Linked DNA regions of Homo sapiens: all the other regions are linked to region 5. Evidence: fine-mapped expression QTL. A gene starts in region 5. Each other region holds a variant in brackets. All regions are shown on one strand. Distances are from middle to middle.

What was found. PIP is the estimated chance that this variant, and not a neighbour inherited with it, causes the effect.
Region 1: its variant is fine-mapped to the expression of MYO5C in monocytes after LPS (Fairfax 2014, PIP 0.95).
Region 2: its variant is fine-mapped to the expression of MYO5C in whole blood (TOPMed, PIP above 0.99).
Region 3: its variant is fine-mapped to the expression of MYO5C in monocytes after R848 (Quach 2016, PIP 0.95).
Region 4: its variant is fine-mapped to the expression of MYO5C in sun-exposed skin (GTEx, PIP above 0.99).

Annotation. Positions count from the first base shown.
Region 1 is chr15:51,761,888-51,766,992 of GRCh38, reverse strand. TMOD2 (tropomodulin 2) reads right to left here. Exons shown (of 10, transcript NM_014548.4): 2 at 426-620. The coding sequence starts at 551. Among named protein-coding and RNA genes, the nearest start is that of TMOD2, 13 kb to the right of the region's middle. The variant C/T (reference allele first, on the strand shown) is at 2,556.
Region 2 is chr15:52,240,943-52,246,047 of GRCh38, reverse strand. MYO5C (myosin VC) reads left to right here. Exons shown (of 41, transcript NM_018728.4): 17 at 6-92; 18 at 583-694; 19 at 1,481-1,692; 20 at 3,835-4,000. Among named protein-coding and RNA genes, the nearest start is that of MIR1266, 34 kb to the left of the region's middle. The variant C/T (reference allele first, on the strand shown) is at 1,936.
Region 3 is chr15:51,580,760-51,585,864 of GRCh38, reverse strand. The region is part of intron 1 of DMXL2 (Dmx like 2); the gene reads left to right. Among named protein-coding and RNA genes, the nearest start is that of DMXL2, 39 kb to the left of the region's middle. The variant AG/G (reference allele first, on the strand shown) is at 2,743.
Region 4 is chr15:52,263,305-52,268,409 of GRCh38, reverse strand. MYO5C (myosin VC) reads left to right here. Exons shown (of 41, transcript NM_018728.4): 9 at 4,114-4,220. Among named protein-coding and RNA genes, the nearest start is that of MIR1266, 11 kb to the left of the region's middle. The variant C/T (reference allele first, on the strand shown) is at 2,434.
Region 5 is chr15:52,293,883-52,298,987 of GRCh38, reverse strand. MYO5C (myosin VC) reads left to right here and starts at 3,184. Exons shown (of 41, transcript NM_018728.4): 1 at 3,184-3,378. The coding sequence starts at 3,352. It overlaps LOC105370819 (a long non-coding RNA gene), which reads right to left and starts at 4,104. Exons shown (of 4, transcript XR_932250.3): 1 at 3,777-4,104. RefSeq lists a silencer at 3,361-3,520 and an enhancer at 4,962-5,105.

The DNA.
Region 1 (5,105 bases), 530 kb after region 5:
TCTGACACTTACCAGTGTGGAATCTTATATAAATTACCTCTCCATGTCTAGGGGTTAATAAAGTTTACCTCAAGGGCTTCTGTGCCCAGAGAAATATATGACTCAGAAAAAACTCAGTAAGATTTGCTCTCTTTTCCTCTTTCCTTCTTTTTCCCCTAAACAAGACTAGTCCTTTCTCAACCAACGGAAAATATTTCCCCCCATTTACATTGGGCTGGTTTTTGAGAAATACATTTGCTGTATCACACTGTAGTGGCTATGAGGTTCTCTATGAATTTGTAAACACAGGTGACCCAGAACCAATCAGAGGAAGAAAAGAAAATGTGCATTCCGAGCTAAGGGATTTCTACCATTGTTTAAGGACCAAGCCATGCCATTTATCCATACTATCATTAACCACTCTGCTTCAGTTCCATGTCACTAACCTCAGGATCTAGGTCATCTAGAACATTTTCCAACTGTTTCAGTTCCTCTTCTGAGAGTTTGCCAAGAAGCTCATCTTCATCAATGTTCTTGTATTTCTCCAGCTCTTTTTGAAAGGGGAGTGCCATGGCTTCTTATAAGCCTTTCTCATGGGCCATGCACATTTAAATGGTCCAGTTTCCTGAGACTTCAGAATACTGTTAATAAAAAAGAAACACAATAAAAAAGAATCTCCGTTCTGTAAACAGGACTTATTAACAGGAGACAGAAGTATGCCTCCAATGGAGCCTACTGTATTGAATGAATAATTCAACAAAAAGGTAATATTCCCTTCATTTGCAGAGCAACCTGACAGCTTACAAAGTGTTTTCACATATTTCACTTATTTTGATCTTTACAACAATCCTGTGAGGAAGCCCGTGACGATATTATCATTCCCATTTTATAGATGACAATTCTGAGGTGAAAGTGGCCTAGTGCCTTGCTCGAGGTCACAGAGCTGGGATGCGTGAGCCCCGCCTTCTGATTCCCAGCATAGTGGGTGCTTTTCCCTTATACTACTCTGCCTTCCCTGGCTCTCCATAGAAAAACAGGGGAGAACAATGCACTAATTGTAAGGCAGTTGTAAGAAGCATACTTGTGTCTTTTCAGGGAGAGAGTGATGTGAAGAATACAAAATGGGATTCATTCAGGAACGAGAGTTTGGAACGTCTATGTGAGAAAGCATTGTCCAGTAACTCCCCTGCAATTAAACTAAGTGCGATTCTAAAATCCTGGCCACATGATCACTCTCTCTATTTTTCTCCTTGCTTTGTTTTCCATTCTATTTCTAGTCCCATTTCCTTTTTGTTCTACGTATTCATTCTTTATACCCTCAGACCGTTCTTCTCTCGACCCTTATTTTTTATACCACCTCACTTCTAAATATTCACCCAAAATGCAATTTTTACTCAATCCCTTTCTCCTTGCAGAGGATTCTACAGATCTTCCTTAGAAAGATAATACTCATTCAGGAAACAGTAATGTACTTCACTGACTGTGTTTCTCCTTAGGAGGTATTACCACCAATCACATCTTTCAGGCCAATAAATATTTGTTATATACCTACTATTTGCCAGGCATAGTTCTAGCAAACAGAAATACAAAGATAAACAAGATATGCCACCTTTCCCCAAGAAGATCACAGCTTAGTGAGACAGGCACACAAATAGCAATAATGTCATAAGTATTAGACGTAACGTATAAAGTAGGTTTAAAAACACATGAGGAGGCCAGGAACGTTGGCTCACGCCTGTAATCCCAGCACTTTGGAAGGCCAAGGCAGGTGGATCACCTGAGGTCAGGAGTTTGAGACCAGCCTGACCAATATGGTGAAACCCCATCTCTACTAAAAATACAAAAATTAGCTGGGTGTGGTGGCATGTGCCTGTAGTCCCAGCTAGTCGGGAGGCTGAGGCAGGAGAATTGCTTGAACCCGGGAGGCAGAGGTTGCAGTGCTGAGATGGCATCACTGCACTCCAGCCTGGGTGACAGAGTGAGACTCTCTCAAAAAAAAAATTATATTTATCAAAATGCCCCCTCTCCCCAAGATCACAGCTTAGTGAGACTCTCACACAAACAGCAATAATGCCGTAAGTATTAGACATAATGTAAAAAGTAGGTTTGAAAACACATGGGGAAATAATCACTGAGTAAGTGGGGGAAGTTTGAGGGGAAACTGTGAAAAAGAGGCTGTGTTTGAACATTGAAGGAGGAGGTCATAAGGTGGACATGAATGGGCAAGTGTCATTCTAGGAAAAGGGAACAGCACAAAGGGGTACAGGATAAGACAGTAAATGATATGCTGGTAGAGCAGGCGGCATGGCTACAGAGGGGGATTCATGGAGGAAGGGAGAGGAAAGAACTAAAGACGAGGGTGGGACATCTGTGAAGGGCCTTCCTTCTGCGCCTTGCTAAGGGACCTGAACTTTATTCTGTTGGGAATGGCAAGCCACCACAGCTTCTTAAAGTAGGGGAGTGATCTGAGCACGCCAATCTTTTTTTATGAGTTCAAATCATAAGAATGAAGAATGAGTTGGCATGGAACGAGACTGGCTGCAGGTGGGCCTCTTAAGGGCTATTGGAATAGTGTT[C/T]CCTTTCCTTTGTGAATTCAACGGCTCACAATGTTCAGGTTTGTGGTTTCTGTGTCGATACCCCTTTCACATGCAATGCAACGCTCTTTTCCATTAGCTCAGCTTCTTATTTATTAATTTAGAGATAGGGTCTCCCTCTGTTGCCCAGGCTGGAATGCAGTGGTACCATCTCGGCTCACTGCAACCTCCAGCTCCTGGGCTCAAGTGATCCTCCCACCTCAACCTCTGGAGTAGCTGGGATTACAAGTGTGCAACACGAAGCCCGGGACTACAGGCATGTGCCACGATGCCTAGCTAATTTTTAATTTTTTTTTGTAGAGATGAGGTCTCCCAGCCCTCCTTTTTTTTTTTTAAATCTTTAATGACTATATTCTAGTAAATAAACAAACAAAAATTCTACTAAAGTCAGAGAAACCAATTGGATCCTATACACTTTGTTCTGGTGCCAGCTACCACTAACTTACTGCATCACACAGGACAAGGATGGCATCTTCCAGGCCCTTATCCATCAAATGAATTGGTTGAAGCACCCTACTTAATGGATTCTAAAATGCATACTTTGCCACATTTAACATTCTGAAATTGAGATGTGTCTTAGAATTCATGGTGTCCTACAATTACTGTTGTCCCAGCAGCAGTAAAAATGTACTTGTCATTGCTTGTATATACCTAAATATCAAAAGCACCAACTTCAAAACTAGCAGAGTGGATGTAAAGGTCTTGGAAGGAAATCCCAGGGACAACTGTGGAATACTCTTTTAAAATTTAGAAAGCAGACAATCGTGGGGAGGTGACAATGCAGGTATGTTTAGCAGCACTCCTGAAGAGAGGCCCAGATTAGGACAGTTCCACATAATTACAGAGTGAGTTTAAGTGCCCAGTTCAATGGCTTTTAGTTTTAGTTTTGTTTTTTTACAGATTTTTTAAATTACCACTCGATGGCACAGAGGAAATTATTATGTGGAAAAGAACCAGATATGGATAAGTAAAATAGTGATCTAAAATGTTGGACTCTGAGTGTGAAGAAGTTTTAAGAATATCAACTAATGAATGCATTTCACTTACATTTCCCCTTTTAATGTATGCACAGGAGAGATATATGATTTTAAAAATCCATGTATATTCATAGCACATTTATTTGTAATTGCCAAAAATTGAAAACAATGTGAATGATAGTAAATGAATAAAAAACAAATTGTGACCAGGTGCAGTGGCTCACGCCTGTAGTCCCAATGTTTTGGGAGGCTGAGGCAGGAGGATTTCTTGAGCCCAGGAATTTGAGACCAGCCTGGGCAACACAGTGAGACCCCGTTTCTACAATTTTTTTTTTTAAAAATTAGCTGGGCATGGTGGCACATGCCTGTAGTCCCAGTTATTCGGGAGGTTGGGGTGGGAGAATTGCTTCAGCCAGGAGGTCGAGGATGCAGTGAGCTATGATTGCACCACTGCACTCCAGCCTGGGCAACAGAATAAGACCCTGTCCCTAAATAAATAAATAAAAATAAACAAATTGTCGTATATCCACATAATGGAATACTTCTCAGCAATAAAAGGGAATGAACTATTGATGTACACAAAAACATGGATGAACCTCAAAATAATTATAATGAGAGAAAGAAGACCAAAAAGAATGTATACTGCAGGATTCCATTTATCTAAAATTTTAGAACACATAAACTAATTTATATGACAGAAAGAAATCACAGTTGCTTAGGCATGGGAGAGAGGTGGGAGGGGCTGATGAGAGGAATGACATAGGGGCATGGGGAACCTTTTGGGGATGTTGCATATGTTTACTACCTTGATTGTGGTGATGGTTTCACACATACATGCATATATCAAAACTTATCAAACTGTACACTTGAAATATGTGCACTTTATTGTATGTCATTTACACTTCAGTAAAAAAGATTTCAAAAAACCTATGTGGAAGTCGAAAACAGCTCTTTCAATAAAGTAAAAATTATTATTATTTTTTGAGACACGGTCTCAGTCTGTTGCCAGGCTTGAGTTCAGTTGTATGTCAGTACAACTCACTGCAGCCTTGACCTCTTGGGCTCAAGCGATTCTCCCACATCAGTCTCCTAAGTAGCTAGGACTACAGGTGTGCACCACCATGCCGGGCTATTTTTTTTTTATTTTTTGAAGATACAGGATCTCACTATGTTGTCCAGGCTGGTCTCCAACTCCAGTCTTCAAACAATCCTCCCAGCCTGGCCTACCACAGTGCTGGAATTACAGGTATGAGCCACTGTGCCCAGCCAAAAATTTGTATTTTTTTTTTTTTTTGAGGCAGAGTCTCACACTCACACCCAGGCTGGAGTGCAGTGGCGCAATCTCGGCTCACTGCAAGCTCCACCTCCCGGGTTCATGCCATTCTCCTGCCTCAGCCTCCTGAGTAGCTGGGACTACAGGTGCCCGCCACCACGCCCGGATAATTTTTTTTGTATTTTTAGTAGAGACAGGGTTTCACAGTGTTAGCCAGGATGGTCTCGATCTCCTGACCTCGTGATCTGCCTGTTTCGGCCTCCCAAAGTGCTGGGATTACAG
Region 2 (5,105 bases), 53 kb after region 5:
TAAAGATTTGACTCCAAAAGAATTGTTCAGCAGCTGCGAGCCTGCGGCGTTTTAGAAACGATTCGCATTAGTGCACAGAGCTACCCTTCCAGGTATGTTGTCCGTCCTTGTCTTGGAGGGAAAAGTACCTGACATCAGAGCTATGCTGAGAACCAAGGACATGGCTGCCATGATTTTTGTCACATACTTTTGGCTTCTGTAAAGTGCCCCCAAGATTTTCCCACTGCCCTGTGGAAGTCCAGAAGAGGTTGAGAAATAGGCTTTGTAGGGGTCGGAGGTCAACACCACCTTCTCACCCCATCACTGCATCTCGGCTGCTGGTGGTGGCCCCACCGCCTCCCCCGTGTACTAGGGAAGACGCTGAGTGGGAGAAAGAGCACAATTGCTGGGGCAGACAGGAGTGCTCAGGGTGGTCTTGGTAGTGTCCCAGGCAGGCAGGGTATCAAAGATCAGTGCCTTTATCCTCAGGACAGATTGCACCACCCCCGCCCTATGACAACAGTGGCAGGTAAGGCAGCGGAGTCCCCAGACACAATGTGCTTCCTCTGACACTCCTGGCTTTGATCCCCTTTGATTTTCCAGGTGGACATACATCGAGTTCTACAGTCGCTACGGCATTCTCATGACCAAGCAAGAGCTTTCCTTCAGCGATAAAAAGGAGGTGTGCAAGGTGGTTTTACACAGACTCATCCAGGTCAGTTTCCCCACCTCCTGGGATCATGGTCTCCTTCCTGGAAGCACATCTCCCAAACATGCTGTTTCATCTTTGTCTTGAATGCTCAGGACTGTAATCATGAACACCTGAAAGGAAAGAAAATGTGCCCTGAGCATTTGTCTGCTGAAGAGACCATAGCAGAGTGCTCAGTGGGCCATGAGTCCCCGTTAGGGACCCACATCCGAACTCCGGCCTCCCCAGTGTCCTCGTATCCTGTTTAGCTCTCCCACGATCTAACCCAGTCCTCTGTGGACCAGGCTTATAGGATATGGTCAACTGGGGTTGTCACCAAGCCACATGGGCTCCAGGCATGGTGCCTTGTGTGGATTGACATCATTGCTGCAGCGATGAGTTGTGATGGGAAAGAGATGGGGAGTTATAAGGTCCAGCAAAGGGGATGGTGAAGAGAACCCAAAATGGAGACAGAAAACCAAACTTCCCCAGTTTCTTCTACTCCAATGTGGAGACCACGAGAGAGTGGCTGAAGTTCTCTGGCAGCCCAACTGAGAATCGCCGCAAATGACACTCACTCCCCTTCTCACCCACAAATGGATTCCTCAGCCTAAGTCCCATTTCTTCCTCCAGGGTAATTTTAAACAAACAACTCAAAGTATACATTTCTAGATCATGATGTGAGTTTTCTGCCTTAAATGTCAAAATCACAATATTTCTGGCACCTTTGAATCCCTAAAGCTCTTTTCCAAATACTGTATTATAGAAAATCTGACAGATTTTAATTCTAACTATATCATTTTTCTCTTCCAGGATTCTAATCAGTACCAGTTTGGTAAAACCAAAATTTTCTTCAGAGCAGGACAAGTGGCTTATTTAGAGAAACTTCGATTGGATAAACTGAGGCAGAGTTGTGTTATGGTACAAAAGCACATGCGTGGCTGGCTCCAGAGGAAAAAATTCCTCCGAGAGAGACGAGCCGCCCTGATAATCCAGCAGTACTTCCGGGGTCAGCAAACTGTGAGGTATGTTGGAATCAAGGAACACATGTGGAACTGTGGGGCTTTCTGTGCTGATCATCTCCGGCGGGGAGGACTCATCAAGGACAAGGGACCTTTCTCCTGTGACCCAGGGTGCAGACGTGCATGGGTCCCCTTTGTGGTCGTGAGCATTAGGGCAAGAAAGGTCCGTCTCTCAGGGGCAGGTAGTGCTGGCTCTGCCTGGTGTCTGTGTGGTGAGCCGACACCCAGGGCCCTGCAGGGAGGAAG[C/T]GCTGGTGAGAGTGTTACTAAGGAGAGTCAGGGTTCCGGAAGCTCAGGGAGAGGCCCGGGGCCCCTTTCCTATGGGAACTGAAAATGCATAAGATCAGCAAGGCCCTAGTGAAGATCCAAAGGACAGATGTCAAGAATAGCCAGCGACCAGCCTGCCAGCAACAGGTGGGGTGCACCATGGCAGAGGGGGTCCCTGCAAGGCCTGGCAGCAAACCAATCACAGAACCCCTAAGCAGGAAGACCACAGCAGCCCCAGCCAAGCCAAGGGCTGAGGGGAGGGTGGTCCACCAGCTGCGCTGATCCTACCTGCCTCGAGGGGTCCTGAGAGTCCACACAACCCTGCCAGCCCACTGAAGGACCACGGTCATTCCGGGACTTCCAGGGCTTTGGTGTACCTGCTGGAAAGCACAAGACCAGGGTGCCCCTAGATAAACTTTGTGTTTCTCTCTGCCTGCTCTGCCCCTTCTTTGGGATGCTGTGAGGATGCTTGAGAAGGCCGGCGTTTAGGGTCAGGCTGCGTCTGCAAGCCTGACTTCTTCCTGAGCTGGAGGCTGAACTGTGGCAGCATCTGGCCTTCTCTGCATGACCAGCGTGGTGTGGCATGGATCACACAGCTGGGCTGGCTTGCCCTCCTGTGCTTCTGTGCCCAGTTGATAACAGCAGTCTTTGGGGAAGGAAATCACAGTTATCTTACCCGCCAAGGCCACGCTCCCTTCCCATTTGGGGCTCACCAGAGCCTGATCATCCTGCCCTGCTGGCCTCCTGCCTATCCCATTCATTTCATCCCACTCCTGCCCCCAGTTTAGGCTCACGGCATCACCTGCCTTGCACTCTGATGGCACCGTGCTCCACCTCCCACCTCCTTCCCATCTTCCTACATCAGAGCCTGATTGAGACACTGCCCTGCACCTGCCTTTAAGGCCCGTGTTTCCTACAGAATAGCATTCAGTCTCTGACGTGATATTCAAAGCCCTCCATAGCCTGGGTGCATTCATAAGAATGGAAGCTCCATGAGGGCAGGGGCCACACTTGTCTGGTCATTCATACCCAGACCTAGCATGGTGGCTGTCATAGAAGGTGTTCAACAAATATGTTTTTAAAATAACAAATGGTGCACATCTATTTTTCTAACCTCATTGACGTCTAATTTTCTTCATCCATCTTATTCTAGTGATTCCAAACAAACTCCTTTTCTGAGTATTTCAGGCACTGTAGAGCCTCCATGCCTTTACTCATGCTGGTCCCTTATCCTGAAAGCCTTTTCCAGCCTTCACTGTGTACAGACATCCTACTGCATTGGGGGCTGGCTCACATACCCACTTTCCCCAAGCAGAATAACTGTTTTTTTCCCCTCTCACTTACAGATCTAGTTAGGTGGTATTTTATTTTTCCTCTTTCTTGGCCATTTGTTAGTCTTTCTGTACATGAGGTTGTAAACTCTAAAGGTAAGGACATTATCTTCACCTCTAGTCATTTAGACAGGGGCAGCAAACTTTTTCTGTAAAGGACGAGATGATAACTATTTAAGGCATTGGGGGCTTGCAGTCTCTCCTGCTGCTGTGTCATGAAAGCAGCCGTGGGGGATATGTAAATAGTACGTGATTGAGCAAGTGCAGCACCAGTGCACAGTCTCATCATCGTCTCTGTGGGTACCTGAGTGGAGGTGAATCGACTGGCCTGAATGAAAAGAGTGAAAGTTCCCATGTGGTTCCTCAAGGACAGGGAACTGGGGACTGGCCTCAAGTAGGCATTAGAATAAACTGCCCACAGAGTTTAATGTGGAGAGGTGTAAAATATTTGAACCTTCCTTATAAACACATGCTAGCCAAGCTTGCAGCTCTGTTATGGAAGTTGATGCTCTGTGGGTAACAGACTCACTCTTCATCCTTGTTAACCAAGGAAAGCTATTACTGCAGTGGCCTTAAAAGAAGCTTGGGCAGCCATAATCATTCAGAAGCACTGCCGCGGGTATCTTGTTCGCAGCCTGTATCAGTTGATTCGCATGGCCACCATCACAATGCAGGCCTACAGCCGAGGATTCCTGGCAAGGAGGAGGTATCGAAAGGTGAGGCCAACCTCTGTCTAGAGGAAGGGAGGGTGTACGGGCCTTCCTTACTGAGAACAAAACAGGGCCCAGGGAAAGACTTCACTATGGGCAACCTCACTTTGTACAAAGTGTCAGCCAAGCCAGAAAGGAGATTCTTCCAGGTGCTGTGGCTCATGCCTGTAGTCCCAACTACTCAGGGAGCTGAAATGGGAGGGTTCCTTGAGCCCAGGAGTTCGAGGCTGCAGTGAGCTATGATCATGCCAGTACACTCCAGCCTGCGTGGGTGACAGAGGGAGACCCTGTCTCTCTCTCTCACACACACACACACACACACACCAGTTGCACTGTTGGTTTCTCTTTCTCCCAGTTGGCCCCAAAGAGACCACACCAAAGGAAAGTACATTTTAAGCCAATAATGTGCACCTAACAGACAGGATATACACCTAACAGACCTCACCTAAAGCAGAGACTGGGTTGGGGAAAGAAATTTTAAAAGATCAGCACACTGGCTGGGCACGGTGGCTCACACCTGTAATCCCAGCACTGTGGGAGGCCGAGGTGAGTGGATCATGAGGTCAGGAGATCGAGACCATCCTGGCTAACACAGTGAAACCCTGTCTCTACTAAAAATACAAAAAATTAGCCGGGTGTGGTGACGGGCACCTGTAGTCCCAGCTGCTCGGGAGGCTGAGGCAGGAGAATGGCATGAACCCGGGAGGCGGAGCTTGCAGTGAGCCAAGATTGCACCACTGCACTCCAGCCTGGGTGACAGAGTGAGACTCCGTCTCAAAAAAAAAAAAAAAAAAAAAAAAAAAGATTAGCCCACTGCCACCCCACAGACTGTAGAGAGCTCTCACAGCCAGATGGGATGTCCAGGGTGTCCAACTCCAAAGAAACGAATTCAAAGTAATATAAAATTGAACAAGTTTTCTACATAAGCTATTCAAGATTTCTCCAGCACTGACTAATACAAAGCACAATGAGATGGCTCTTTTAGAGGCAGCAGCTTTAGACTCAGAAAAGGGTGATGAGATGAGTTTCATACGGCAAAAAAATAATTTTCTTTCTTTCAAGGAGGGAGGAGAGCAATAAGTGTTCACTTCAACATAAGGGGTGCCTGATC
Region 3 (5,105 bases), 710 kb after region 5:
GACAAATGGACCAATAATATGAATAGTCAGTTTACAGAGAAAGAAATATAAATGGCTGATAAATATGTGAAAAGATGCTTATCTTCTAATAAAAATACAAATTAGAACAGGGAGATGTCAGGTTTTGTTGGAATGGAAAGATTAAAACATTTGATAATGATTGGGGTTAGTGAGTAAGTGGAGAAATAGGTACTTTTATACAGCTTGGGGCTATAATCTTTTTGGAAGACAATTTGCAGTTGCAATTAATTTTAATCACTGATCCAGCATATTATATCTTAGAATTTATCCTGTAGGGATTCTTGGACACATACGCATATATCATCTATACATACATGTTCATCGAAGCATTGTTTGAAATAGTAAAAGACTGGAAACAACCAAAATTAATTATGGCAAAGCCACAACATGAAATACTAATACTGTGCAGCTATTAAGAAGAATGAATATAAACAGAGCCAAAGACAAAAACCACATGATTATCTCAATAGATGCAGAAAAAGCCTTTGACAAAATTCAACAACCCTTCATGCTAAAAACTCTCAATAAATTAGGTATTGATGGGACGTATTTCAAAATAATAAGAGCTATCTATGACAAACCCACAGCCAATATCATACTGAATGGGCAAAAACTGGAAGCATTCCCTTTGAAAACTGGCACATGACAGGGATGCCCTCTCTCACCGCTCCTATTCAACATAGTGTTGGAAGTTCTGGCCAGGGCAATCAGGCAGGAGAAGGAAATAAAGGGTATTCAATTAGGAAAAGAGGAAGTCAAATTGTCCCTGTTTGCAGACGACATGATTGTTTATCTAGAAAACCCCATCGTCTCAGCCCAAAATCTCCTTAAGCTGATAAGCAACTTCAGCAAAGTCTCAGGATACAAAATCAATGTACAAAAATCACAAGCATTCTTATACACCAACAACAGACAAACAGAGAGCCAAATCATGGGTGAACTCCCATTCACAATTGCTTCAAAGAGAATAAAATACCTAGGAATCCAACTTACAAGGGATGTGAAGGACCTCTTCAAGGAGAACTACAAACCACTGCTCAAGGAAATAAAAGAGGACACAAACAAATGGAAGAACATTCCATGCTCATGGGTAGGAAGAATCAATATCGTGAAAATGGCCATACTGCCCAAGGTAATTTACAGATTCAATGCCATCCCCATCAAGCTACCAATGACTTTCTTCACAGAATTGGAAAAAACTACTTTAAAGTTCATATGGAACCAAAAAAGAGCCCGCATTGCCAAGTCAATCCTAAGCCAAAAGAACAAAGCTGGAGGCATCACACTACCTGACTTCAAACTATACTACAAGGCTACAGTAACCAAAACAGCATGGTACTGGTACCAAAACAGAGATATAGATCAATGGAACAGAACAGAGCCCTCAGAAATAATGCCGCATATCTACAACTATCTGATCTTTGACAAACCTGAGAAAAACAAGCAATGGGGAAAGGATTCCCTATTTAATAAATGGTGCTGGGAAAACTGGCTAGCCATATGTAGAAAGCTGAAACTGGATCCCTTCCTTACACCTTATACAAAAATCAATTCAAGATGGATTAAAGATTTAAACGTTAGACCTAAAACCATAAAAACCCTAGAAGAAAACCTAGGCATTACCATTCAGGACATAGGTATGGGCAAGGACTTCATGTCCAAAACACCAAAAGCAATGGCAACAAAAGCCAAAATTGACAAATGGGATCTAATTAAACTAAAGAGCTTCTGCACAGCAAAAGAAACTACCATCAGAGTGAACAGGCAACCTACAACGTGGGAGAAAATTTTCGCAACCTACTCATCTGACAAAGGGCTAATATCCAGAATCTACAATGAACTCAAACAAATTTACAAGAAAAAAACAAACAACCCCATCAAAAAGTGGGCGAAGGACATGAACAGACACTTCTCAAAAGAAGACATTTATGCAGCCAAAAAACACATGAAGAAATGCTCATCATCACTGGCCATCAGAGAAATGCAAATCAAAACCACTATGAGATATCATCTCACACCAGTTAGAATGGCAATCATTAAAAAGTCAGGAAACAACAGGTGCTGGAGAGGATGTGGAGAAATAGGAACACTTTTACACTGTTGGTGGGACTGTAAACTAGTTCAACCATTGTGGAAGTCAGTGTGGCGATTCCTCAGGGATCTAGAACTAGAAATACCATTTGACCCAGCCATCCCATTACTGGGTATATACCCAAAGGACTATAAATCATGCTGCTATAAAGACACATGCACACGTATGTTTATCGCGGCACTATTCACAATAGCAAAGACTTGGAACCAACCCAAATGTCCAACAATGATAGACTGGATTAAGAAAATGTGGCACATATACACCATGGAATACTATGCAGCCATAAAAAATGATGAGTTCATATCCTTTGTAGGGACATGGATGAAATTGGAAACCAACATTCTCAGTAAACTATCGCAAGAACAAAAAACCAAACACCGCATATTCTCACTCATAGGTGGGAATTGAACAATGAGATCACATGGACACAGGAAGGGGAATATCACACTCTGGGGACTGTGGTGGGGTCGGGGGAGGGGGGAGGGATAGCATTGGGAGATATACCTAATGCTAGATGACACATTAGTGGGTGCAGCGCACCAGCATGGCACATGTATACATATGTAACTAACCTGCACAATGTGCACATGTACCCTAAAACTTAGAGTATAATAAAAAAAAAAAAAAAA[AG/G]AAAAAAAAAAAAAAGAAGAATGAAGTAATTTCCTCTGTGCTGATGTAGAAAGTTCTTCAAGATACATTGTTAACTAAGTGGAAAATAAGTGGCAGAATTGTGTATAGCATGATCCCATTTATGTTAAAAGAAGATATATAAAAGATATACTTTTATATATTGAACATTTCAGGAAGGGTTCATAGGTAATTATTAAGTAATTGCTTCCTGGGAATGAGGAGGGGAGGGGTAAGAAGGGTGAAAAGGATGAGAAGGTGACTTCATTTTCTTATTTAATTTTAAAATTTAATATATGTGTGATTTCCTCTATGAAAAAGAAAATCTTGTTACTGAAAACATTAATATTAAACATTTTATGTGCCTTATTTACCTTGTACATGATTTCAATGTATATGTGACTTGTGAAATTTCTTGCTTAATCAGGAACGTATTAAGGAAACCTATTTGTCCTTTTTAGAAATTAATAATTCTGAGAGTATCATAAAGAGCTAGGGTTTTAATTAGGTGACTAAAATGGAGAGAAGGAATGGGTGTTTTCCTGGGAAATCTTTGTTAATCTGTGTTTTGTCCTCTTGGTTGTAAGATTTTTCATATGTCAACACTGGCCTCTTAAGACTTTCTATAAGATCTCTTGGTACAGCCAAGTAACCATCAAAGCCCAGACAACCCTGCCTTCCTGTTAGTTTTTTTGTTTATGAGCAAAGATCACAGCAGAAGTGAAGAATTTAAATGCAATTAATAAAGAGCAAAAAATTTGAGCAACAGAAAACGAAACGATAGAAAAATGTCATTAGTAAAGTGGAAAAAACAGTAAAGAGGGCTGAGTTTGAATTATAGTCATGTATTTACCTTGTGACATAGGAATTTGATTAAATCCTGTGAAATTCCTTTTTCAAAAATATTAAGGTGGGATTAATAACCAACTTCTAGGATTGTGGCAGTCTTGAAAGAAAGATTAGGAATATAGAATGAAAATAGTATAATACTTGTCACCCAGTAGGTTTTTAATAAATGGTACCTCCTTCTTGTAATTATTTTTCTAACTCTTAATAAAATGTACCTTCTTCAGTAGAAAAGTAGACATATTTACATTGATCAAAACTCACTCCCAGGGAGCGGTGGGAGTTTAATAGTAACACTCTTGATATAGTATTCTTGGTAAGATTATAGTACTTTGTTAAACCTCTCAACATGCTTAGTACACCTTGATTTATCAGGTTTTGTTTCTTTTTTTTGGTCTTTGAAGTTTAGACACTTATCAGTAGTTGTCAATGATCTCAAACTTTGACCCTGTAACTTCCGGGATGTTAAAACATCCAACTATTCTATAGTAAATGCTAATGTAATTAATCTATTGTATGCTATAGTTTCATAGGAAATGTGGTCATGTTTGTTTAAGCTTTTTAAAAGTTTTCCTTTTGTTACTCTCCACTTCAATTTATCTGAGACATAAAGGAAATTTGAGAAATTAGAACAGTGTTTGTGGGATTAGAGTATTAGTTTTCTTTTCTGAAAATAATGTAGTTAAGACAATTATATATAAAACTAAAGTTAGAGAAGACTGAATGAGTGTGTTATGCCTCTTCACACTGCATTTTAAAAGACCTCTCAACATGCCTAATACTCCCTTATCAGTGCTTTTTTTGTCTCTTAAATTTAGACGCATCTGTCAGTGGTTGTCAGTGATCTCAAAATTTGCATTGTTCATTAGGACATTAAACCCTCTAGAGCAGCGGTCTCCAACCTTTTTGGTACCAAGGACCGGTTTTGTGGAAGACAGTTTTTCTACAGCGAGGGGTGAAGGAGAGGGATGGTTTTGGGATGATTCAAGCACATTATGTTTATCATTAGATTCTCATAAAGAGCATACAGCCTACATCCCTAGCATGTGCAGTTTACAATAGGGCTTGAGTTCCTATGAGAATCTAATGCCACCGCTGATCTGGCAGGATGTGGAGCTCAGGCAGTATTGCTCACTCACTCACTGCTCACCTCCTGCTGTGAGGCCCAGTTCCTAACAGGCCATGGACTGGTAGTAGGAATTGGGGACCCCTGCTCTAAAGAAAGCAGCAATATCTTTATTGTGGTAATAGTACCACAGCAAAGAAAAGAAACACATTCGCACAACTTTAAATACAATTTTTCGGAGTTCAGAGACCTACTGAGGCCATCTATGACTTATGTCTATTAGACTTCAGGTTGAAAACTTTTAGTTTCAATGTTCAAAGCAGAGAATACTTTTCTCTTTCCTAATAGGATGGATTTGGTCTATAAGAATAGGATTATAACAAGTGAGGGTTAATATTTTTAAAGTTTTTTTTGGATGTAACAGCTTATGCTACAGAATTATCTCTGAGCTGT
Region 4 (5,105 bases), 31 kb after region 5:
TTGTATTTTAGTAGATACAGGGTTTCACCGTGTTGGCCAAGATGGTCTCAATCTCCTGACCTCGTGATCTGCCCGCCTTGGCTTCCCAAAATGCTGGGATTACAGGCATGAGCCACCGCGCCCGGCCAGCCATTTCTACGTCTTGCTGAAATCTCTCTTGCTGAAATGTCCCGCCGATTCATACTAAGTGCTTTCATTCTTGTGGCCTGGTTGACTGTATCTGAATGTAAAAAACTAAGAGTTTCAGGTTAAACATATCCAAGGAATAGGCAAGACGATCACAGCTGGATAATGGAGAATGAAAACAAGATGGTTTTCTAAGCAAAATCACCATCAGACTGTTCCCTCAAACCTGCTTCGAGGAGAAAGGCAGTTTAAACATTTTATAATAATAAGATAAACACTTTCGGCACTGACTTACATTTGCTGAAAATAATTATGGTCGTCATTTCAATCTTTGTATAATGTACTCCATGGAGAGGGGGCTTGGTGCGTGAGGAGGGGACAGGTGGCCAAGCTCTGGCTGGGCTGAAGGATATGCCCTGCCCTGCCCACCCTCATCTCCCTGATCCTTCTACTCTCTCCCACCTCTATTATGTCCTCCTCCTCACAGCAAGATAATGTAGGGCAAATAGAGTAGGCTTTGGGATCAAATGAATGTGAATTCAAATCCTAATTGGTATGAATCTAAGGTTACCCACTCTGAGACTTGGTGTCTTTTTTTGAGATGGAGTCTCGCTCTGTCGCCCAGGCTGGGGTACAATGGTGCAGTCTCGGCTCACTGCAACCTCTGCCTCCGGGACTCAAGCAATTCTCCTGCCTCAGCCTCCCGAGCAGCTGGGATTACAGGCACATGCCACCGCCCCCAGCTAATTTTTGTATTTTTAGTAGAGATGGGGTTTCACCATGTTGCCCAGGCCAATCTTGAACTCCTCACCTCAGGTGATCCGCCCGCCTCTGTCTCCCAAAGTGCTGGGATTACAGGCATAAGCCACCATGTCCAGCCAAGACTTAGTGTCTTGATCTGTGAGTGGCAACGCACCTTATCTTTCATGACAACTCGTGAGGAAGCATATGTAAAAGTCCCCAGCACCAGGCCAAGCACATAGCAGGTGCATAGTAACTGCTACTCCCTGCCTGCTAGCTCTCTACATTCCCAATTGTCCAAAGCCTCACCATACTTTGAGTAAAACCATCTCTTCTTCCATGAAACCTTTTCTAATTGTTGGAGATCAGCAATTTGCAGCCATTTGCCCCCATGTTTCACACAACTTAGGTTATGTTTACAGATTTCCACATCACGTTCCTCAGTCCCAGGGCCAAGACTGGGACGAGACGAGAGAGGCACTCACTCTCAGGGCCCTGCATGTGCCGGGTTGGCCCTGGACACTTAGCCTGTGCACAGACTTAGAAGTTTTAGACAAAGCCCTCTGGAGTTTTGTGGAGAGGTAGAGTACCGTGTCCTCTCAAGGCATTAATGGTGATGGCTGCCTGCTGTGCTGTGTGAAGTGGGCAGGTGGTAAGAGATTGGGGCCACTGCACCTCTTCCCTGCAACTCTCCCTTCAAGAGAGGGTACCTCAGCTCAAACTTTTCCTTCACCTTGCACGAGGTCATCAGGGACTTCTCTGTTTAGACATGCTAGGGCGAAGCTAGATGGCCTCATGAACGCTGTGGGTCTTTTCTCATATTGCGGTGGGCACTGGTGTTAAACTGCTTAGATATACCTTACCCAGTGTGACCTCGGGTGAGTTCCCTAACCTTCCTATGCCTTAGTTTCCTCCTCTGTGAGATGGGAACAATACTAGGATTCCTTCGGGTGGTTGTAGTGAGCATGAGAGGAGCTGATGCGTGGAAAATACCAAGGACGGTGCCTGAGGCAGTGTTCCCTTCGCCTTCCCCTCCATTTCTGCTGCTGAGATCCCTCAGTTAGCAGTGAGATTACCCCTGGAGAAGCGCGAGGGGAGGCATTTTGATTAAAAAGTCCCTTTCTTCTGCTCTTCTGCTGTGTCTTTCTCATGTGATTCATCCACTGACCCCTGCCATTTGAGTGTTGCTATGATCCTTGCCCTCTGATGGGACGAACACCTTGGAATCAGGCTGTCCCTGGGACCTCAGGCTCTAGGAACTTGACCAGTGAGCTCCCCCTGGAAATCTGATTCAGGCTGGCATTGCTTTTGTGTGACAGGCTCACTAAGGATGATTACTTAACGCAGGTCTTGAGTTCTTTCTTTTGTATTAATGTTTTGGAGTTGTTATCTCCCTTTTGTGTTTCTGGAAGGCCTGGAGTAGTTTAAGGGGTTTAGTTATGGATCACAGAAAGCAGGGAGGAGTGCCAGAATGGAGGCTCCTGCACTTGGCATTTTTAGTTGCTGCTCATGATCACTTACCTGTCATTACTGTGGTGGAGGCCTGGGGTATATTTCTGTTGGACA[C/T]ATCTGTCCTTCGGATGGAGGAGTTACCTCCAAATGGAAAGGCAGCAAGTGCCTGGACTCAGCTGGAGCTGGAGTCTTCCCTGTGTTCTTGGATTGAAATCTTTTGAGACTGATTTTATTTAATCTTTGTAGTAGAGGAGACTCTGGGCCAGGTGCAGTGGCTCATTCCTATAATCGCAGCACTTTGGGAGGCCAAGGAGGGTGGACCACTTGAGCCCAGGCATTCAAGACCAGCCTGGGCAACATGGCAAAACCCCATCTCTACAAAAAATTAGCTGGGCGTGGTGGCGCACATTTATAGTCCCAGCTACTCAGGAGGCGGAGGTGGGAGGATTACTTGAGCCTAGGAGGTCGAGGCTGCAGTGAGCCATGATCACACCACTGCTCTCCAGCCTGGACAACAGAGTGAGACCTTGTCTCAAAAAAAAAAAAACAAAAAACTGTAGGTTTTGAAATTGTTAAAGAACATGACCTACCTGCTAATGGAAACTCCAGGTATCCTCAAGTGAGGGGTCATTGGCTTCCATTCCAGTGTCCATTCCAGGGTGGACCAGGCAGCCTGCCTGGTGTGAATGAGCCTGCCTGCCAGCCCGAGCGCATCTCTCAGCTGCTTAAGTCACCACAGTGTCATTAACACACACTGGGGGGATCCCGACCTGGCAAAACCGGGCTCACAGCGTGTGGGTCTACACTGTGATTTACAGGGTTTGAACACAGTCCTTTCTAGCAGCTGGTTTTCTTTCTTTTTGGCTCCAGGAAATGTGCTAATCCCCTCACGGTGACTGAATATGGTATGTAGTCATAATTTATATTCTACTTACTGCAATCAAAGTCCCAATGGGGAACATGGGGCAGGCTCACAACAGAATACAAGAGGGAGGGGTTATTTATTATTTACAACTGCAGAGGTGTGAGTGGAGTCTAGGGGAGCTATTAATACAAGGGGCAGTGGGCACCTGGGGGGCAGCAGCAGAACTGTTCACTGCTCTTTCCCATGTGGGCATCCAAGTGTTTCTGGAGCCTAGAAGGAGAGTTGGGTAAAGTCAGCCCCAGAGGAGCAGTGACCTTCTGTCAGTCAGGCCATGCAGCCAGTTGGAGGCAGCTTTGCAGGGAAGGGGGCTGGGGAGGACGCACTCGGAACCTTCTCCGCTCCTCTCTCTGCTCTCCTGCTAGGGCTCCCCATGAATCAAACCCAACCAAAGGCCAGAGGGCATGAAAGGCCATCGCCTTGGTTTATACCAAGTCCCCTGGGGCAGAGAGCAGAGAATCTGGAGGGGCAAACGGAATCCCTCCAGCAATCCCACCTAAAAAATAATTCAGGGATTCAGAGAGCTTGTGAGCAAAAAGAAAAATGAAAAACATTCAAAATCAAGCACAGAATCAAGGCAAGATGACTCTCCGAGGAACCTAATGTGAAATGATTACTGGGATATTAATTTTTGTGTTGAACTTCCTAGCAGCCATGGCAGAGGGGAAACCTGTGTATAGACACATGTGGTATATGTCTACAGAGGTCGACTAGAAGGAACAGTGCCCCAGATGCCCCTGGGGTCCACTTCACGTTCCTGTCCCAGAGCTTGGCACTGATGCTACCTGCATATCTTGAATGAATCCAGGTGCCCATCTTACTAGTCAGAGAAGAGATGCAGTATTCTAATCTGGGAAAATGTTTGTTTTTAGGTTTCAAGGAGGATTTTCAGATGGACGTTTTTAAAATCCTGGCAGCCATCCTACATCTGGGCAATGTGCAGATCACCGCGGTGGGCAACGAGAGGTCCTCAGTTAGTGTGAGATGCTCATTTGTTTTACTTTTCCTTTGTCTAAGGGTCATAGTGGAACTGGCTCGCAGCTGACCTGCCTTTGCTTTTTAGCACCAGATATAGTCGGCCTCCTGGGTAGACTGGTTTAACAGGAGGCAGGCGGCAAGGGTTTCCAGGGCTTGCCTTCAAAGAGTAAAGCCTCCTCCCCTTGCAACAGTAGAGGAGGGGAAATGGATCTCCTGTGTGCTTTTCTTTTATTCAAAAAGTATGTATGAAGCACCTACTAAGTGCCACGGACTGTCATAGCATCTGGGGAAACAGCAGTGAACAAAACAAAGCAAGAAGCCCTTCAGGGAGCTTATGATCAAGGGTAGGGAGGAGACACAACAAGCAAATATGGGCTCTGGCAGCTGACGGCTGGCACAGAGGAAAGTAAAGCAGAGGGGGCATGCAGAGGTGCTGTGTCTTTCATGTGGGGTGGTCAGAGAAAGACTTTCTGAGAAGGTGGTGGGTGGCAGCCTGCAGGGGATGAAGAAGCAGGTTGTGCCTGTGGATGGGGGAAGAACAGCAAGTGCAGAAACCCGCAGGCAGGAGATGTCATTTGAAAAACAGCACGAAGGTCCATGTATCCAGAGGGTGAGTGACAGGGAGGGTGTGGATGAGGCCAGAGAGGGGAGGGGGATTGCAGACCACATAGGACCTTAAGGGCACTGGGTAGTTTTCAGCAGAAGGACACCCACTACCTCCTTACACCTGCTTGAATCAGACATCAGTGGTGCTGGCTTCCTGGGAATGTATTGTAAGTTTTGTGAAAGATTTCTTTATTTAATGGACACAAGTTAATTTGATGTGTGTTTCTTCTATGACATATACTATGAGTAGTGATTCTTGGGGGAGGGGTATGTGTTTAAT
Region 5 (5,105 bases):
CATAATTCCGAAAAGCTCAGGAATTAGGTTCAGAGGCAGCAGGTAACACTGAAAGTGGCATGCAGCTGAAAACACAGGAATTGGTTGAAAATCTGTTTAAATAGCAGTTCAAGTGGACTTGAACAGACATTTCACAAAAGAGAATACCAAAGTGGTCAATAGTCATCATAGAAATAAATGCAACTTGGACCCACAGTGAGACATCATAACACACTCATCAGAAAGGCTATTTTTTAAACTGACCACATCAAGTGGTGAGGATATTAAGCAACTAAAAGTCTCACACACTGCTGGTAGAAGTATACATTGATATAACAATTTTTTACAAATCTCTTTAGCATTATCCGTTAAAGTTGAGCATTACATACCTGTGATCCAGCAATTCTGCTCTGTTTATGTGCCCAACAAAAATACATATATTTGTGCATCAAAAGACACATATAAAATGTTCATAGCAGCATTATTCATAGTGGGTGTAAACTGAAGCAACCGAAATATTTATCAATAGGAGAATGAATAAATTGTAGAATATTTATACAATGGAATACTACTAGACAGGAATGAAAGACCTCAAACCGCAGCTACATGCAACAAGATGAATAAATACCATGTAAAAAGCCAAATGCAAGAGTTACACATGTGATTCCATTTATTAAAAACATCCAAAACAGGTAAAACGCATCTATGGTGATACAAATCAGAACAGTGGTTATCTTTGAGAGAAAATGATTTGAAGAAACAGAGAAAGTTTTGGGATATCGGTAATGTTCTACGTCTGGATCTGGGCGGTGGTTACTTTGGTGTGTTGATGTGTTCCATGAATAAGAATATATTGAGCTGTACACTTATTATTTGCACACTTTTCTGTATATAATTTTATTCTTCAATAAAAATTTTCTTTAAATAAAAAAGGCAGCTAGATTCTCTTTTTAACTCTGAGCAATCAGGCAGCTGTCACTACTCACCTTATAGATTTTCTTTTTCTTTATACAAAATAGAATTATTTGGGCAATAATATAAATAATTTTGTATATAAATAAATGCAAAATTAAATTTACCATGATCCTCTCTTTGTGGCATTTATCATTATTGATCCATGCCAGGCCTCTCTTTATATTTTTTGATCCCCTTTTTGAAATCTCCGATTCCATTTCTCTCCCTCATAGGTATCCACTCTTGCATATTTAATGAATGACTTTGTAATTTATCCTCCTTACCTCTATTCACACATACTTGTACCCATGAACAATATTCAGTATTGCAGTTTTTGTGAGTTTTTAAATATTAAAGACTTGGGCTAGACATCTATTCAACATTGTTTTTTATTTCTGAGTCAAGTAGATCATGTCTATTCCTACTAACAGCTGTAGAGTTTTACATGTATATACTATTTCTTTTTTTATTTTTCTCTGCTGTCTGCCATGTATATACTATTTTATTTATTCCCCTATTGATATTTAGATGCTTCCAACTCTTTGATAAATAACTATGTTGTGATGAACATCTACTTAACTGTCTCTTTGGGTGACTGTGAGAATTTTTCTGCCTACATTTATTTTCATAACTATTCTCAAATTGCTCTCCAGGATGGCAGTATATTCCCACCAGTTATGTAAGCAAAAAAAGTTTTTATTTTTTTTATTTATTTTTTTTTTTTTTTTGAGACGGAGTCTCGCTCTGTCGCCCAGGCTGGAGTGCAGTGGCGCAATCTCGGCTCACTGCAGGCTCCGCCCCCTGGGGTTCACGCCATTCTCCTGCCTCAGCCTCCCGAGTAGCTGGGACTACAGGCGCCCGCCACCTCGCCCGGCTAATTTTTTGTATTTTTAGTAGAGACGGGGTTTCACCGTGTTAGCCAGGATGGTCTCGATCTCCTGACCTCGTGATCCGCCCGCCTCGGCCTCCCAAAGTGCTGGGATTACAGGCGTGAGCCACCGCGCCCGGCCAAGTTTTTATTTTCTCACATCCTAGGCAGTATCTGAGATTGTCTAACCTAAATGTTTTTGCCAATATGATGGGTAAAAAGCAATATCTCATTGTTGTTTTCATTTGTATTTATCTGATTACTGCTAAAGTTGACATCTCCTTGTATGCTAACAAGCCATTTAAGTGTCCCCATCTGTGAATTGCCTATTAATTTTTGTCAGTTTTAAAAATTGGATTTCTTTTCTTTAACCGATTAACAATTCTTCTATATGGAAACTACTATAACCCAACATTTTAAAGATATTATCCCTCTTTTATTCCTAATAATTTCCCGGTTTTAAGTTTTAATCGTGAATCCATCTGGAGCTTATTTTTGGATGCAGTGTTTGCCACGGATCTGCTTTTATTGTTTTTCCATATAACGGGCCCATCTAATAAATATTATTTTATTTCCCTATCTGGTCCTTAAGGCTACCGTATAATGTAGGGCCCTGCTGGGGGGCTCCAGCATGTTCCATTACTCACGTATCCGTTCTCACGCAAGTGTCACACTGTTTTAATGACTACTGCTTTGTTATGTCCCTAAATATATGGCAGGACAAATCTCTCCTCTTTGAGAATTGTCTTAGTTATACAGGGCTTTTATTCTATATGAAATATAGAATCATTGTACAATTCTCCAAAAGTTCTGTAGGATTCTGACGCCAATATATTAGGCATATATATTGATTTGGGTAGAAGTGACACCTTGACCATATTAAATATTCCCAGCCAGGAAAATGGCATGTCTCCCGTTTACCTGGGCCTTCTTTTAAGCTCTTTAAGAGAATTTTAAACATTTTCTCCACAAAGGCCAAGGGCATTTTTGCGAGTGTAATCTCTGGATACTTTATATTTTCACTAATATTGTAAATATCTTGTATTGCATAGACAATGCTCATATAAAGGACCATTACTTATTTTTGTATTTGATTTTGAATACGATGACCTTGCTGGACTCTTAACACATTTCTTTGTGTTCAGTACGTTGATTCCCTTGGGTCTTCCATTTAAATGGTCGTATCCTCTGCTCTTTGAGGAGCTAACACTCGGGCCGGGCAGCCTCCGGATGCATCTGTTCCTGCCTGGCAGCGCGCCCCGGGCCCCAACCTTCTCCACCCGCGCTCCCGCCAGGTGCAGCCGCCCGGCCCCGGCCAATGGCAGCGCCGACTAGCCGGGCCAAGCTTGGAGGGACCAATCCCGCCGCTGCCCCCTCCCCTCGCCGCCAACTCGGGAACGGGAACAGGAGGCCGTTGGAAAACTTTGGGCAAGATGGCCCGGCGGTGATTTCCGCGGCGGTCTCTCCTGCGCCCGGCCTCTGCGGCGCAGGCCCAGCCCCCGAGCCTCGCACGTTCGGCAGCCCCGGCCTGGCCCCGGCCCCTCCTGCCCATGGCGGTGGCCGAGCTGTACACGCAGGTAGGAGGGTCCGCTGGGCTCCTGGGAGCGCTGTGGGGGAGCCGGCCCTGCTAACGCTGACTCGACCTGGCGCCCGGGCCACACCTGCCACACCTGCGCACCTGACACGGCAGGGCGGGCGGGCGCGCGCTGGGGGCCGCGGAGGCGCCGCGGAGGGGCCACGGGGACCGGGGACACGAGCGAGCGTCGCCCCTCCAGGGCCCCGGCGTGCTCCGTCCCTGCCCGCGGGTAAGCCCCCTCCTGGCTCCGCTGCGCCTGGGTGCCCTGTGGGTGGGAAGACCCTGTGGGAGGGGCCGCCCCCTCCGCCGCTCCGGCCTCGGGGCCTAGAATCCCCAGTGCCCAGGGGTCGCGCGTGCGTCCCCATCTCCCGGGACTGGAGCGCCTCGGTCCCTTCCTACCACACCACGGGTGGAATCAGAGTTGCCCATGCGGACGTAGGAAGCTGAGACGCCGGCCAGTCTCCTGGCCCCTCCTGGGACCCCCTTGAACGAGCTGGCATAGAAGCTTATGGCCGCAGTGTTCGGGCTGCTTTCTAGAATTCTGTGTCTTCAAAGTGCGTGAACGTGCATGTAGGCTCATCAGAAGCTGAAGCAGCCTGGGTCACAGGCTTGAGGGCACTGCAGTGGCACCAAGCGCTTGGGGAGCCCAGGGGCCACGAGGTGCAGTCGTAGGCTCTTTGCCTAACATCTGTACTGTTAGCAACAGTACAAACACCACAGTTTCTAAAGCGCCTTTCATATACCCTGACTCTGGGAAACACTAGAGCATTCCTCAGAAGCTTCCTTTCTGCTGGCTGGGGCTCCACCTCTTACCTCGGAAGGGCAGCGTTCCCACATATGTCCCAAACCCTCTGAGATGGGCTTGGGTAATTATTTGGATAAAGAGTGTGACAGTGTTAGCACTTTTGAAAAAAAAAATCCATTTGAATAGCCATAAAGCCTGATCCTCCTATACACCAGTTGGGGAAATCTAGAGACCTCAGTATTCAGACGAGTGGAACTAGAATCCATCCATTTCCCCGGACACATGCTCTAGCTTTCTACTTTAAAAGATGCTTTTGCTGTAGATAGAAAAGATAGTTATTTAAAAAATCATGTTTCAATGGTTTAAGCAAACGTTTTTCTTCTACTTTGATTACTTAGTAACAGTCCGGACACAAAGCAACCGAACTGTAGTTTCTCCTCTATTGCATCTCCATTAACTGGAGTTCTAAATGGACAGTGTTTGAATTGCCCTAGTTTTGTTCTAGAATATTTTCACCAGTGAGACTGTGAGCCCTCAGACAGCCAACAGCGCTTCTTCAGCCTTCAGTTTACTGGAAGTGAAAGAAAAGTCTTGGACTAGTCTTCGACGATACTTTGGAGGACAGAGAAAAATGCTGCTGCTGAACCTATTTGAGGTGACAGTATTTCCAGAAGCAGAAACACACAGGTGCAAGCACCCCTATTTTTAGGTGCCTCAAACCTCAGATATTTATTAAATGTCTAGTAAGTACCAGGCACAATGTAAGAAAACTGATAGGAAGGAGTTTAAAGGTACAAGCTTGGAGGGAATGAGAATCTGAGAATCCCAGAGACTGACGCAGCCTGATGGCCATTCCCACTGACCTTGTGTCCACGTAGACACCTGTGTTCCTAGGCTGCCACCTCCCTTCCTGGTGGGCAGTTAGCCCCCATTTTGTCTGTTCTGGAGGTGTGAAGGGGAGGGCCATGGCAGCCAGAGAGCGA